2 separate regions of the Homo sapiens genome follow, and region 2 is linked to region 1. Evidence: fine-mapped expression QTL. Tissue or cell type: fibroblasts. Region 1 holds a variant in brackets; the other region holds the start of a gene. All regions are shown on one strand. Distances are from middle to middle.

Region 1 (8,175 bases):
AAACATTTTTGGTGGAAAGAGAATATTTTCCAATAGTTCCAGCTAAACTCCCACGGTTGAATCTCACTGGTCCGGTGTGGGTCACGTGCCCATCCTCTGGTCAATCTCTATGGTTACAGCAATAGAATTCATGATAACAAGCCCCTCCCTGGAGTCTGAGACTGTCAGCCTCACTAGAATAGAAATGGAAATAGGTAGTTACTATCCTCAGAAGGAGCCCTAGATGCTGACATTCAAAAATAACAAATGCCTACCACAGTGGGGCATGTGAGAAGAATAGGTGAGTTCTATGACATCTTGCACAGCAAGGCTGCCGTGACAGTTGCACAGGTTGTGCACTGCACATCTCTACAGGGTCTCCATTTATATTCACTATCACCCTATGTTTACAGATTTATCATGATAAATTTCCAACAGACTGCAGTTAAACATCTTCAGGAAGGGAAGTGTGATCGACTGAAAATGAAAAACATGGTCGCAGTATTTTGCAACTCTTCCTGTCAAGAGGTAGAGTCTATTTCCTTACCCCTCAAATCTGGGTGGCCTCGAGACTTGCTTTGACCAATAGAATATGGTAGAAGTGACTCTACAAATTTTGAGGCTAAGACTTAAGAGGCTTAGTTTCCACTCTGACCCTCCTGGCGTGCTGCCTGAGACTGCCCGATAAGACTACCCCATAAGAAGGCAAACAGCCCCCAGGAGGGTGAGAGGTCACGTGAAGGAGACCCAAGGTGCCCCAACCAACCAGCTCTGGACTGGAGGACCCAGGAAGGTGAGACAAACTGCTGGGTGAACTGTGCTGTGCCAACTCATTGAAGCTGAGAACTCAATTTCCCAGAATTTCCTCCCCATGTGGTTCTGGTTAGAGATGACCAAAAGAGGAACATGAGTGAAATTTGGAGAGTGGAGACAAAGCAGTGGCCGTGACTCTCTGAAGGTCACTGTGGTCCGGTGTGATGGTGGGTGGTGTCTCCCGAGATCACCTCCCAAAAACCTTTTTTTTTTTTTTTGAGACAGGGTCTCGCTCTGTCACCCAGGCTGGAATGCAGTAGTGCGATCTCGGCTCACTGCAGCCTCTGCCTCCTAGGCTTAAGCAATCCTCCCACATCAGCCTCCTGAGTAGCTGGGACTACAGGCACGTACCACCATGCCAGGCTCATTTACGCATTTTTAGTGGAGACAGGGTTTCGCCATGTTGCCTAGGCTGGTCTCCAACTCCTGGGCTCAAGCAATCTGCCCATCTCCGCCTCCCAAAGTGCTGAGATTACAGGTGTGAGCCACTGTGCCTGGCTCCAGATAAATTACTTGCACCCAAATTTCTGTCTCAGCATCAGCCTCTGGGGGAACCAAGTCTAAGACAGGCTTCTTAAGAAACCCTGAGTTCCCCTAGGTTGTGTGCTGAAGGAATGCAGTGACAGAAATCAGAGCAGAAAGAGATCAACCTTCCCTTTTAATCTTTCATTTATTCATTCATTTTACAGTCAGTGAGTCCCTGCTGTGTGCCCGCGCTGGAGACAGAAAGAGCCCAGAACTTGGAGTCAGCCAGGCTAGTTCTAACTCCAGCCCTGAGACACAGACAAGTCCCCCTAAGCTCTTGGAGCCTCATCTGATCCTCACAATGGTCCTACGAGGCAGAAAACCTCATGACCCCAGTGCCCATGAGGAAATGGAAGCACAGAGAGGTTGGGTGACCTGCCTAAGGCCACACAGCTGAACAGTGGCAGAACCAGGATTTGAACCTGGGAGTCAATTCCAGATCCCATGCGCTTAGTAAATTTCTCAGGAGTTCCAGAGACTGGGCTGATTGATGAAAGTTCCAGAATTTAGGACTTGTTCCAATAAATGGTATGAATTAGTTCCCCTATGTTTGTGAGAAAGATCCCACTACTTTACTTTAAAAAAACAAAACGAACAAAAAAAAAAACTTCTTTTTATACAGTGAGTCAGAGTCTTGCTGGAGTGCAGTGGTACAATCTCAGCTCACTGCAACCTCTGCCTCCCAGGTTCAGGCAATTCTCCTGCCTCAGCCTCCCAAGCAGCTGGGACTACAGGCTCATACCACCATGCTCTGCTAATTTTTGTAATTTTTTTTTAAGACAGTCTTGCTCTGTTGCCCAGGCTGGAGTGCAGTGGTGCAATCTCAGCTCACTGCAACCTCTGCCTCCTGGGTTCAAGGGATTCTTCTGCCTCAGCCTCCTGACTAGCTGGGACTACAGGCAGGCATCACCATGCCTGGTTAATTTTTGTATTTGTAGAGACCAATTTCACCATATTGGCCAGGCTGGTCTCCAACTCCTGACCTCATGATCTGCTGGCCTCGGCCTCCCAAAGTGCTGGGATTACAGGCGTGAGCCACCGCGCCCAGCCTGTAATTTTTTTTTAGTAGAGACGGGGTTTTACCATGTTGGCCAGGCTGGTCTCGAACTCCCACCCTCAGGTGATCCGCCCACCTTGGCCTCCCAAAGTGCTAGGATTACAGGCGTGAGCCACCTTGCCCGGCCTTTTAAAACATTTCAAGCTCTACTAGGTCCACTATATTTTTATTTAATGTGCTACTGGTGAAAATTTATTTCTTCTTTTTTTTGTTTTTTTTTGAAATGGAGTCTCTGTCGCTCAGGATGGAGTGCAGTGGCACGATCTTGGCTCACTGCAGCCTCTACCTCCCGGGCTCAGGTGATCCTCCCACCGCAGCCTCCCAAGTGGCTGAGACTACAGGCACGCACCACCATGCCTGGCTAAACAAGCTTCTTCCAGTCTGATCCCATCCCCCTAGGAACCCGGGTGTGGACGGCCTCTCTTACCTTTGCTGCAGACGCGTCCCTCCTTCCTAGCCCCAGGGGCTGTGTCATGCACATGACCAAGCCTGGCCAGTGGCTACCCAGCATCTCCTGAGCCTCAGTGATTGCTCCAGTAATGGGCATGTGACCCAAGCCAAGCCAATGACAATCAACCCCAAGACCCTTGCTGGAGCTCCTTGAATAAGACGAATTCTTTACAAGGCTGGTGAGATGAAAACCCGGAGCTGCCCAGCACCATCTTTGCCAGCAGGTAGAGCAAGCCCACTGGAGAATGAAGCCAACACAGAGAACAGCCAGGCTTGGAGTTGGAGACAGATCCCTGACAGCATGGTCTGAGCTTCTGGATCCAGCCAGGCCTGAAGCTCTTGCCCTCCCCACTTCCCAGTGACACAATACATTCTGCAATGGCATAAACCAGTTCCAGTGGGATTCTGGTTTTTGCAGCATTCTGCTATTCATCCTGACTAATGTATTAGACTTAAAAAAATACAAGGCCTGGGAGTGGCGGCTCACGCCTGTAATCCCAGCATTTTGGAAGGCCGAGGTGGGCAGATCACCTGAGGTCAGCAGTTCGAGACCAGCCTGGCCGACATGGCAAAACCCCATCTCTACTAAAAATACAAAAATTAGCCAGGTGTGGTGGTGCACGCCTGTAGCCCCAGCTACTCTGGAGGCTGACGCAGGAGAATGGCTTGCATCCGGGAGGCAGAGGTTGCAGTGAGCCGAGATTGTGCCACTGTGCTCCAGCCTGGGTAACAGAGCAAGACTCAATATCAAAAAATAAATAAAAATACAAAAATTAGCCGGGCGTGGTACCACACATCTGTAGTCCCAGCTACTCGGGAGGCCGAGGCAGGAAAATCATTTGAACCCAGGAGGCGGAGGTTGCAGTGAGATTGC[G/A]TCACTGCACTCCAGCCTGAGCGACAGAGTGAGACTCTGTCAAAAAAAAAAAAAAAAAAAAAAAACAAGGCCTGTAATTCTCCATTGGCCCAAGACAAGCACAGTCCTGCAGAACACAAAGACACATTTGCTCCTTGAAAGATTCACAGGAAGGGAAAAATATTTCCCATTCTGTGGTAATGAATCAATACCCAAATAAGACCTGGTTCGTTTCTCAAGCAGGTAATCCTGCCCAACAGCCATGACTCATCCCAGCCCCAACCAGCCCTGAGGTTGGTGTGGCCCCAGATAACTCGCTAAACTTGGGGCCGCCCCAGATTTTCCATGTTTGCGTGTCTCCTCTCCTTTCTCTTCCAGCTAAGAGTCCTGGGAACTCTTTCTAGAGTTCCAAGTAAACGCTTTGCAGAACGCCCAACCCAGATCAACACCCAGTAGATGCTCTCAGAGCACAAGGAGACATCCGGAGATCTTGCTTTTACCGAAAGTATCCAATGAAAGGGAAAAAACAAAGTTGGTCTTGACCCTTTCTATTTTTTTATTTTTTTGTTTCTTTTAGTCAAGATCTTGCTCTGTTGCCCGGGCTGGAGTGCAGTGGCACGATCATAGCTCACTTCAGCCTCAAACTCCTAGGGTCAAGGGATCTTCCCGCCTTAGCCTCCAAGTAGCTGGGATTACAGGTGTGTGCCACCACGGCTGGCTAATATTTTTTCTTTTCTTTTTTTTTTTGAAACTGAGTCTTGCTCTGTCATCCAGGCTGGAGTACAGTGGCGTGTTCTCAGCTCACTGCAACCTCCATCTCCCGGGTTCCAGTGATCCTCCTGCCTCAGCATTCCTAGTAGCTGGGATTTCAGGCGCACACCACCATGCCCAGCTAATTTTTGTATTTTAGTAGAGATGGAGTTTCGCCATATTGGCCAGGCTGGTCTCGAACTCCTGACCTCAAGTGATCTGCCCGCCTTGGCCTCCCAAAGTGCTGGGATTATAGGCGTGAGCCATTGCTCCCAGCCTATTTTAGTTTTTTTAGAGACTGGCATCTCACTATGTTGCCCAGGCTGGCCTTGAACTCCTGGCCTCAAGTAATCCTCCCGCCTCGCCCTTCCGAAGTGCTGGGATTACAGGCATAAGCCACGGCACTCAGGCTTGCCCCCTCTTACCAAGTGCTGGGATGGCACCCAGGACCTCAGCAGCAAAGGGAGCCTAACAGGCATCAGATGAGGAAGGCTCAGAAGGCTGAGCGCAGGGAAGGAGCCTCTGTCCGCAGGACACCGAGGACTTTGGGGAAGGCACTCAGCCGGGAAGTCAGACATGACCTCATCCTAGTTGAGGTTCCGTAGAAGCAGAGCCTGTGATGGAGATGTGGGTGCATGTGGTTTTCTAGAAGTGAGGGTTCTCAGAAGAGGGGAGTAAGGAGACAAGGTGCAGGAGGAAGAACAGCAGACAGGTCCCAGCTGGAGGCCTGATCCCAAGGCAGGCCTGAAGTAAGAGTTTTCTGAGTCAGTCCCACCAGGAGGCAAGGGGGCCCTGCTGAGGACCTGTCCTCGGCCAGTCGGTCCTTCTGGGGTCCCTCTGGGCTGCCAAGAAGGGTGGGTGAGGGGTGGGAAACACAGCTGTGAGCAGTCAGCGGCCACACTCGAAGCAGCCGGCTCCTTCCTTCCTCTTCTTGGCTGCACACCTGCTTTTGGGGAAGGAGCTCATGGACTGGTTGCAGCTGGGGTGGGAAGAATTAAACAGACACTGCTGAGCTCAGTGCTTGAGGGCCCAGGGCTTCGGAGGCAGAGGCAGCCAGTTTCGAATCATGATTCTGGGTTGACTCAAGTCTCCAGCGTGGAGCTCCAGGGGCGCGCAGCTCATGGAGTGCGGTACGGATTAACAAGGCCATGTGGTAGGCGCTCTTCCCCCCACAGCCTGGCGCATGGCAAGTGCTCAACAAATCATGGCTCTGCAAACATCTCCAAGTGTCACAGGCCTGGCTGCTACGGTGGGAGATTTAACATCAGTCGCCAGGTGTTGGGGAGGGAAGAGAAGGAGTTCGGGTGCCTTCCTGGACTCATTCCAGCACCCACAGGTGCTCAGCGCACTTCTATCTGGGTCAGGTTTTGCTCCTTCTCATCAAGTGCAAGGCGGGCACACAGGACCCCGGAAGAACGGAGGTCATGGGAGTCCAGATAGGAACCAGACCCCTGGCGTTGGGGGGGCTCCAAACCTCTGTGTTTGGGAGTCCTGGCTTCCCCAACTTCCCCTCCTAGCCTCAGCCCCTATGGATGGAAAAGTACCCCCAGCTGGCATGACTGATCGATTGGTTTGGGGCACAAAGCTGGGTCCTCTCTGAGGAGCAACTTGGCAGGAGGTGCCCGCAGTCTGGCCTTGGCCACAGTGCTACTTTGAAACTGCTTTAAACTCGCCAATGATGTCCTAAAGCCCTGATGACAAATCCCAGCCTCCCGCAGGCCCTGCTCTGGCGGGGACACCTCTTGGGCCTCATTGCAAACCACACAACCCTCCTCCTGTGCCCCGCCTGCTCCAGGCACACAGGAGTCCCTGTTGCTCCACAGCTTCAGGTCTCTCTGGCGGCAGTGCCTTCCCCTACCTGCCCCTGGCCAACTTTTTTTTTTTTTTTTTTTTGGTGGTGAGACAGGGTCTCATTCTGTCACCTAGGCTGGAGTGCAGTGGTGAGATCAAAGCTCACTGCAGCCTCAAACTCCTGGGCTCAAACAATCCTCCCACCTCAGCTTCCTAGATAGCTGGGACTACAGGCACCCACCACCACGTCCAGATAATGTTTTTATTTTATTTTTTTTCTAGAGACAGGGGTCGGGGTGGTCTCACTATGTTGGCCAGGCTGGTCTTGAACTCCTGGCCTCAAAATGATCCTCCCGCCTCAGCCTCCCAAAGTGCTAAGATCACAGGCATGGGCCACGGTGCCCGGCCTGCCATTACCTTTGATGCATGGACAAGAGGTAGCCTCCCATGCATAGCAGTAGCCACGATAACAGCAGTCATTTCTGTTTGCACCCAACTCATCTAAGCACTGTCTGCTTATTTTTGATATTATTTTCCCTGTTTACATTTGCAGAAACCGAGGCTTAACAAGGTTAAAGTCACCTGCCCATAGCGTGTGGTGGACTTGGGATTTGGACTCAGGGCTGCAGAAAATAAATAACCAGGTCGCCATGGGGTAAGTGCACTGCAGGAGAAGCTGCTTACAAGTGAGCTATCGGTGTCCTGTGGCTGCAATTATCACATCACCACAAACTGAGGCGCTTAAAACAGCAATGTATTCTCTGTTCTAGAGTCTAAAAGCTTGAAATCAAAATGTCATCAGGACCACCTCCCCCTGGAGGATCTAGGGAGGGTCCTCTCTTGCTTCTTTCAGCTTCTGGTGGCTCCAGGCATCCCGGGGCTGGGGGCTGCAACACTCTGCACATGGCTTTTTGTTGTTGTTGTTGAGACAGGGTCTCACTCTGTTGCCCAGGCTGGAGTGCAGTGGCGTGAACATAGCTCACTACAGCCACAACCTCCCGAGCTTAGGTGATCCTCAGCCTTCTAAGTAGCCAGGACTACAGGCACATGCCACACAGCTGGCTAAGTTTTTCATATTTTTGGTAGAGACAGGGTTTCACTACGTTGCCCAGTCTGGTCGCGAATTCCTGGGCTCAAAGGATTCACCCTCCTCAACCTCCCAAAGTGCTGGGATTACAGGCGTGAGCCATGGTGCCCAGTCACCACACGGACGCCTTCTCTCCGGTGTCTGTGGCTTCAAGCTCCATGTCTTGCTTACACAGACACCCGTCATTGGGTTTAGAACCCACCCTAAATCCAGGATGATCTCATCTCGAGATTCTTAACTTGATGACATCTGCAAAGACCCTATTTTCTTTTCTTTTCTTTTTTTTTTTTTTTGAGACGGAGTCTTGCTCTGTCTACAGGCTGGAGTGCAACAGCACAATCTCAGCTCACTGCAATCTCTGCCTCCCTGCAATCTCTGCCTCCCTGCTTCAAGCTATTCTCCTGCCTCAGCCTCCTGAGTAGCTGGGATTACAGGTGTGCGCCACCACGCCCGGCTAATTTTTTTGTCTTTTTAGTAGAGACGGGGTTTCACCGTGTTAACCAGGATGGTCTTGATCTCCTGACCTCGTGATCCACCCGCCTCGGCCTCCCAAAGTGCTGGGATTACAGGCGTGAGCCACTGCGCCCGGCCTCGCAAAGAACCTATTTTCAAATCAGGTCACCTTCACAAGTGCTGGGAGTTACGTCGTGGACGTGTCTTTCGGGGAGGGGTCATTATCAAGTAACTACAGCTGCCGTGGGGAACAGGATTAGGCAATCCGCTGGCCCCTCCCCACATGGACTGAGAAAGGTGAGGACGACTGGCTCAACCCTGGAGAGAAGGTGAAGGAGGCACCGAGATGACAGAGACAGGGAGAGGGACAGAGACAGGGAGAGGGACAGAGAGGGCTACTATGCTCCACTGTCTGCT
Region 2 (8,175 bases), 41 kb before region 1:
ACAGAAGCCGCCCGATAAGGACAGCCAGTGGTAGTTGTTTCGTTCTATAAGATTATGCCTTTCTTCTTTATCTTCCACACTTTAATATTTTTTAATAAAAAATTTCAAACTATCAGTGCATCATCTAGGAATAACCTCATGGATTCAAGTTTAAGGCAAGACATCATTAAGCTCTTAAACTTACCTGAGGCACACTGTCAATTAAATCTAAGGCTCCATGAGCTAAATAGCTTAAATTCTCCAACATTATTTTCTCTGAAGCCTCCAGCTTTGGATCCTGGTATATAAACTCCTACCTACTGCGAGGTGAGCAGAGAATTACCATCACATAGACACCCTCCAGAATGGTTCCTTTCTTGTGTCCATGCCTTAAGCTCTATGAAATTACACAATTCTTCTACTGAAATAACCTGCAGCCAAGGGACAACTTCATTAGCTACAAAGCTGTTGTCACCTGTGTCCAGAGTGTCAATCAATACAGGCTCAAACAACAAGATGAAATTATGAGGACCCTGGAAAATGCCACTTGACCTCAAATAACAATTCTTAGGCAAGTAAACATCAATCAAATTCAGAACAGACCATGGGTGGCCAAACAGACCCGGGAGACGTCAAAAATATGTGTGCTAAAGAAACACAGAACTAAGGAAGTCTATTTACCTGATAGACCGCCTCACCCACGGGGCTATTTTCACTGCTGTAAAAGCGAAAACAAATAGAGGACAAGTCACAGTGCCAAGAATACAGGACTTCCTCTTGCAGATCCTCTTTTTTCCACCCTCACTGTAGCTCTGGGGAAATTCCTATTCAGTGGGAGAAGTTTAAGTCACAAAACGGCACCAGCCCATTCTCAAAGTGCTATTATACACCTCTGAGCAGTGAGGATGGGTAATGTCAGCAAAATATGCACTGTTTATTTTCTTGAAAATTAACTTGGGCTGGAAACGCCTTCCAGCTCCTTCCTCTCAGTGGATTTTCCATTTACTGTCTTCAACCACCTGGGCTTGTCTGTACCTCTTCCACAGCTCTACTGAGACCCTCCTGTTTGTCTGAACTATGTCCTCATGTTCCTTCTGCCACATGTGCTCAGGCCTCAGTTTTTCCATGAAACTTTCTCTAACTTAGCTGCCTCCTTTCCACTGTTCTCAAGCCCTTTCTGGAGTTACAAGGGCATTAGCAAGCACCAGCTTTTTCGCCGGTGTGTGTTTCTACTTTCTACCCATTGCGTAAACCCCTCAGGACCAGGAGCCATTCTTCTGCATCCTTTACACGGCAAGGGTAGCGCTTTATTTCTCAACAGCCCGCCCATAAAAGGAACGGAAGTAACAAAGGGAAATGTATTCCCCAAAGACAGTGAATTACACTTCAATCTACTATTTTAGAGACTTAAGAAATGGGCCGGGTGAGGTAGTTCACACCTGTAATCCCAGCATTTTGGGAGGCCAAGGCAGGTGGATCACTAGAGGTCAGAAGTTCGAAAACAGCCTGGCCAACATGGCAAAACTCTGTCTCTACTAAAAATGCAAAAATTACCTAAGCATGGTGGCACCCAACTGTAATCCCCGCTACTTGGGAGGTTGAGACACTAGAATTGCTTGAACTCAGGCAGGGGGTTGAGGTGGGGTGGGGAGGGTTAGAGGTTGCAGTGAGCCGAGATCGCACCACTGCACTCCAGCCTAGGCGACAGTGAGACTCTGTCTCAAAAAAAAAAAAAAAAAAGAAAGAAATTGATCCTACGTCTTAGATCAATCACCCAGTCACTTAATCTGTGAAAACATTACAAGATACTTTCTCAAATGTGAATAAATGCATCAATTATTCATGCCTTAAAGTAACAGGAAAGAGGGAGATGGGCCTCCCTCATGGTAGATTACAATTAAATGTTTCTTAGAGAGTTTGGTGCACATTTAGTTCCCAGAGCAAGGGCTGGTGGAGAAGAAAGCCAAGTGCAATATGGGTGTTACTCTATGCCAGGTAAAGCAAGTCACACGCCATCTAGATCCTGCTCCAACTGATAAAACCAAAACACTGGTGGAATTCCAGATACCAGCCTGCACTTCTCTCTGTAGGCATCTGGGTTAGTCCTAAATAGGAAGTCCTAAAAAGAGTCACTCTGAGAAGGCAGGGGGTGAGAGGGCAGATGAAGCAGCCAAGCACACATTAAGGCAAATCATGGCTTTCCTAAAGAGGACCCCAAGCTGGGCTTCAGACAGTCTTTGAACCAGCACCAGTGCACCAGGCCAAGGGGAGGGAGGCATCCTCTTTGGGAAGACTGGTAGGAGCTTGGAAGACCCCGTGGCTTCCACAAACTGTAGATTTCCCAGTGACCACTGCTCAGTCCAACAGCCAGTGACATCAGCTCCACTGTCGGGAAGTAGAAAACCAGTGAAGGTCCAACTAGCCTGGTCCCTGAAGCATGACTGGCCCTTCCAGAACATACACCTTTCCCCTATCACCTCCTCTCCCTGACCCCGAAGAGCTTCGGGCACACCACCAACTGACCACCTATCCACAGTGACCTGCAAACCAGAGCGGGGAGGGTATTTGCCTAGCTTGGCAGGGAGGGGCGAGATCCACTTCTGCCACCAGTCACCAGCTGGTCCCACCAGCACCTACCCAGCACCGGCGGTGGACGGTGAGCGGCGTCTGGGCCCAGAGCTGGGTGCCATCAGCAGTAAGAGGACCCCTGCGCTCGCGGGGTGCCCGCCTTACCCCGCGGGGAGGGGTCAGGCCTAGGGGCCACGGCCCGCTTCGCTCTCTGATTTTCACCTCCCCAGGGTCTCCCAGGGGCCTCGGGTGTCCTTCCCGGATCTTGCGCGAAGTCGCGGGGGCAGGGAGAGAAACGCGGGTACCCGCGCCCCTAGAAGTCAAATGTTTGGCAAATAGCATTTGGGAATTCGTTGGGGTTTTTTTGTTTGTTTTGGTTTTGTTTCTGAACCCCCGGGGGATATTTCTGGAAATCTCAACCTGAGTCACTAGAGAGAATCGCGCCTTTTTCTAAAAAGCCCAGGGGCCGTCCTCTCCGGGGAGGGGGACGCGGCGGGCCGCGAAGGGCGCTCGTTCGGGTGGGGGCCGGACGACCCCGCCACGCGCGATCGGGCCACTCTGGGACGCAGGAGCTGAACCCAACCGGAGACGCGGCCGGGACCAGCGCTGGGAGGCCGGACCCCGCCCCGGCCGGGCCCCCACGCCCTCCGCCGCGCCTCGATGCCCGCGACCCGACCCGCGCCCCCTGGCATCCCAGGAGGCCCCAGCCAAGGGCTCAGTGCCCGGGGCCCCCAGCAGGTGCTGGCGCCACCGGCCCCCCGCTGTCTCCCGCTGGTCCCCGCGCCCCGGCGTCCCCGCGCCGCACTCACCGCCGCCCGCGCCGCCTGTCGAGCCGGGAGGTCTGAGCTGGCCTCTCGGGCGCCCCGAGAAAAGGGCCGGGCGGCGGGGACGGGGGCGGGGGCTGGACCCGCCGGGGCGGAGCGCGGCCGGCTTGGGCTTCCGGCTTCTCCCGCCCCCGCGGCCCGCACCTGGGCCCCAGGCGAGACCACCGCCGGTTCCCCGCCTCACTCTGATCGCCCCCAGGCTCCATCCCACACCCGGCTCGCTCGCCACCCCAGAGCTTCCCAGGCTTACCCCCGAGACGCCTGGCGCGGACCTGGTGTCTCCCCCACTCTCCTATCCTGCCCCTGCCTCTCGGTGCCAGCCCCACCCGTCCGCCCCCGACAGCCTGGCCCTCCCTCCTGATTTGCCGCTCGCGGCTCTCCCCACTTTCCCCCCTCCCCGCGCCGCTCCACCACTTCCAGGCGGCGGGACCACCAACCTCGACCCCGGACCCGCGCTGGGGCGCTCCCGGCCCTCTGGAGGGCGGCCCTTCTCTTCCTGTAACTCTACAGACGCGTCCGGACAGACCAAGACACTCTCTGTGCCTTCGGGCATGTTACCCATCCTCTCTGAGCTCGGCTTCCTGTCTGCAAAATGGGCACAATAGCGGTCCTGTCTCCTAAGACCGACTGGGAGTGAACTGGGAAGATGGTAAAGTTTTTAGCACAGGATAGGTATTAGGTAAGGCTTATCAGCTGCCTGTCCGCTTTGTGCCCCCAGGGTGGTCCGTGCCGCCAGGTAGGCCTTTCTCAGCCATCACTGAAAGCAAGCTCTGGAAATCAGTAGCCCCATTTCACATCCGCCCCTAAATGGGTGCCATCTGCCCGTCTGCTTGGAGCCCCATCGGCCGGCTGCAGTGATAACAGCAGCAGCCTGGATCCAGCAGGCTCTCTGGGAAATCATTAGAGGGAATTAAGAAGCATGCCTGGCTTTCAGAGTACACAGAGTCAGGAGATGGGCAGAACCATGATGTGGCCATCCACAAACAAACGCCATTTGGACAGGGAGCTTCCGAGCCCCATGCTGGCAAAGACCTGGATCTTAGAACCCTCCGGTGCCCAAATCCCATGCCTTTACCCGAGGTCCTAAAGATAGTGAGGCCCAGATAGGGAGTGTGGCTTGTCCCGGGTCCCTCAGCAAAGTGTCCCCAGCCCCAAGTTCTTGCCACCTTGCGCCATGTCCACTGACGGGCCACCCTCAGCCGTGGACGAGTTACCAAGTTGGAAGGGATTTCAAAGTTCTCCCAAGCATAGGAGGTTCCCATGTAGATGTTATTAGTGTGGGCAACATTTTACTGCTTTTAAAATATGAAGGGGGCGGGTGCAGTGGCTCTTGCCTATAGTCTCAGGACTTTGGGAGGCCATGGCCAGAGGATCTCTTGAGCCCAGGAGTTCAAGGCCAGGCTGGACAACATAGTGAGACTCCATCTCTATAAAAATTTTTTTAATTAAAAGAATAATAATAAAGCGGTGGAGTGGTGGCATGTGCCAGCTACTCAGGAGGCTGAGGTGGGAGGATTCCTTGACCTCCGGAGGTTGAGGCTGTAGTGAGCTATAATCGAGCCACTGCACTGTAGCAAGCAAGCAACAAAGAAAGAAAGAGGGAAAGAGGGAAAAGAGAAAGAAAAAAAAAAGAAAGAAAAAGAAGAAAGAAAGAGAAAGAAAGAAAGGGAAAAGAAAGAGAAGGAAAGAAGGAAGGGAGGGAGGGAGGGAGAAGAGAAGAACAGGAAATTGGATTACACCCAACCTCTGCCATTCCTCCATTCTCAGGATGCAACCAAGGCTTGCAAAGGTACCAATTATTATACTGACATTAAGACAGAATATCACAGACCATTGCTAGGGAGACATAACACCTAGGGAAAATCTCTCAGAGATAACGTTCAAGAAACATCCCTGTATGAATGCTTTTCTTCCTTCCTTCCTTTCTGTCTCTCCCTCCCTCCCAACCTTTTCTCCTTCCTTCCTTCCTTCCTTCCTCCCTTCCTCCTTTCCTCCCTTCCTCGCTTCCTCCCTTCCTTCCTGTAAAAAGCAGTAGTAAGCCTGAATTTTCTTCTGTCCTTTACTGAATACTACCACATCTTCATTTGTTTTTCTTTCCCCAACTGCTGAGCAGCAACAGGAGCCAGCTTTGTGTTTTTATCCATCCTAAACACTTACCACGGCTGTGAGCTTGCAATTATTTATGGGGAGAGCTATAAGACTGTAACTCTTTTCTTTGATCCCCAAAAAACCACAGAGATTGAATTTCCAACCCAAGGCTTCCAACCAGGGGGTAAAAGTAAACTGGGCCACGTGATCATCTCAATAGACGGAAAAAGCATTTGAAGAAATCCAATAATGCTTTCATGATTAAAAAAATAATAATAAACTAGAAATAGAAGGGAACTTCCTCAACCTTAGGGCTTCTATGAAAATCCCAGAGCTAATGACACACTTAATGGTAAAAGACTGGAAGTTTTACCCCTAAGAACAGGAACAAGCCAAAGTGCCCACTCTGGCCACCTCTGTCCAACATTGTCCTGGAGGTTCTGGCCATTGCCATTAGGCAAGAAAAATAAAAGCATCCAGATTGAAAAGGATAAAGTGAAGCTATCTCTATTCACAGGTGATATGATCCTATATGTAAGAACCCTAAAGAATGTACTAAATACCTATTAGAGCTAATAAACCAGTTCAGCAAAGTTGTGGGATTTAAGATTAACATACAAAAATCAGTTGCTTTTTTTTTTTTTTTTTTTTCGAGACAGGGTCTCTGTCACCCAGGCTGCAGTACAGTGGCTCGATCACAGCTCACTGCAGCCTTGACCTCCTGAGCTCAGGCGATCCTCCCACCTCAGCCTCCTCAGTAGCTGGGACTACAGGCATGTACCACTGTGCCCAGCTAGTTTTTTTTTGTAATTTTTTGTAGAGATAGGGCTTTGCTATGTTGCCCAGACTGGTCTCAAACTCCTGGGCTCAAGCCATCCACCTGCCTGGGCCTCCCAAAGTGCTGGGATTACAGGTGTGAGGCACCACACCCAGCCAGTTGCATTTCTATATACTAGCAATGAGCAATCCAAAAATGAAATTAAGAAAATGGCTCCATTTACAATAGCCTCAAAAGGATAGAAGCTGGGTATGGTGGCACACACCTGTAGTCCCAGCTACTCAAGAGGCTGAGGCAGAAGGATCCCCTTGAGCATGAGAGTTTGAATCTAGCCTGGGCAACATAGCGAGACCCCATCTCTAAAAAAAAAAAAAAGAGAGAGAGAGAATGTAATACTTAGGAAAACGCTTAACTAAGGAAGTTCAAACAAGACCTATACACTGAAAACTACAAAACATTGCTGAAAGAAATTAAAGAAAACTAAATAAATGGAAAGACATTCATGGACCAGAAGATTTAATATAGTTAAAGTGGTATATCAGTCAGAAATCTTTCAAAGAAAGAGAGAGGAGATATATACATATATAGATGGTACCAGACTTAATGATGGTTCAATTATGATTTTTTGACTTTATGATGGTGATACACATTCAAAAGAAACCGTACTTCAAGTACCCTTACAACCATTCTGTTTTTAACTTTTAGTATAGTATTCAGTAAATTACATGAGATATTCAATACTTTGTGATAAAGTATTGAATTAAGTAAAGGAGACCGTCTCCTTTACCTGAAGTCAACTAAAATAAACCACATCTGCAAAATACTTTTACAGCAACATCTAGATTGGTGTTTAATTGAATAACTGGGTACTATAGGCTAGCCACGTTGATGTGTAAAAGTAATGATCACAAATGGCAATACTTCCCAAACTGATGTACGGGTCCAATGTAATCTCTGTTTTTGTTGTTGTTGTTTTGTGTTTTTGAGATAGAGTCTCGTTCTGTTGCCCAGGCTGGAGTGCAGTGGTACGATCTCGGCTCACCGCAAACTCTGCCTCCTGGTTTCAAGCGATTCTCCTGCCTCAGCCTCTCGAGTAGCTGGGACTACAGGTGTGCACCACCAAGCCTGGCTAATTTTTGTATTTTTAGTAGAGACAGAGTTTCATCGTGTTGGCCAGGCTGGTCTCGAACTCCTGGACTCAAGTGATCCACCTGCCTCGGCCTTCCAAATTGCTGGGCTTTCAAGTGTGAGCCACCGTGCCCGGCCCAGGTCCAATGTAATCTCTATCAAAATTCCAGCTGCCTTTTTTGGCAAAAATAGACAAGCTGATCCTAAAATTAATATGGAATTACAAGGGATTTCAAATAGCCAAAACAATCTTGAAAAATAACAAAGTTGGAGGATCCACTGTTTCTGTTTTTTACACTTTGTTTTTGAGACAGAGTCTTATTCTGTTGCCCATTCTGGGATGTAGTAGTGCCATCATAGCTCACTGCAGCCTCAAACTCCTGGGCTCAAGCGATCCCTCCCACCTCAGCCTCCAGAGTGGCTGGGACTACAGGTGCGCACCACCATGCCTAGCTAATTTTTAAATTTTTTGTATAGATGTGGTCTCACTATGTTGCCCAGGCTGGTATTGAACTCCTGGGCTCAAGTAGTCCTCCCACCTCCACCTCCCAAAGTGCTGGGATTACAGGTATGAGCCACTGCACCTGGCCCACACGTTCTGATTTTAAAACTTACTACAGAGATACAGTAATCAAAGCATGTGGTTCTGGCATAAGAATAGACATATAAATCAATGAAATAAAATTGGGAGTCTACATATAAACCATATATCTATGATCAATGAATGCCAAGACCATTCAATGGAGAAAGAGTCTTTTTTTTTTGAGACAGAGTCTCACTCCGTCACCCAGGTTGGAGCGCAGTGGCGTG

What was found. PIP is the estimated chance that this variant, and not a neighbour inherited with it, causes the effect.
Region 2: LITAF starts here. The variant in region 1 is fine-mapped to the expression of LITAF in fibroblasts (GTEx, PIP above 0.99).

The regions. Positions count from the first base shown.
Region 1 is chr16:11,624,271-11,632,445 of GRCh38, forward strand. It overlaps a transcript of LITAF not described here. Among named protein-coding and RNA genes, the nearest start is that of SNN, 40 kb to the right of the region's middle. RefSeq lists an enhancer at 2,814-3,348. The variant G/A (reference allele first, on the strand shown) is at 3,699.
Region 2 is chr16:11,583,530-11,591,704 of GRCh38, forward strand. LITAF (lipopolysaccharide induced TNF factor) reads right to left here and starts at 3,390. Exons shown (of 4, transcript NM_001136472.2): 1 at 3,357-3,390. RefSeq lists an enhancer at 2,144-2,253 and silencers at 3,154-3,233, 3,264-3,743.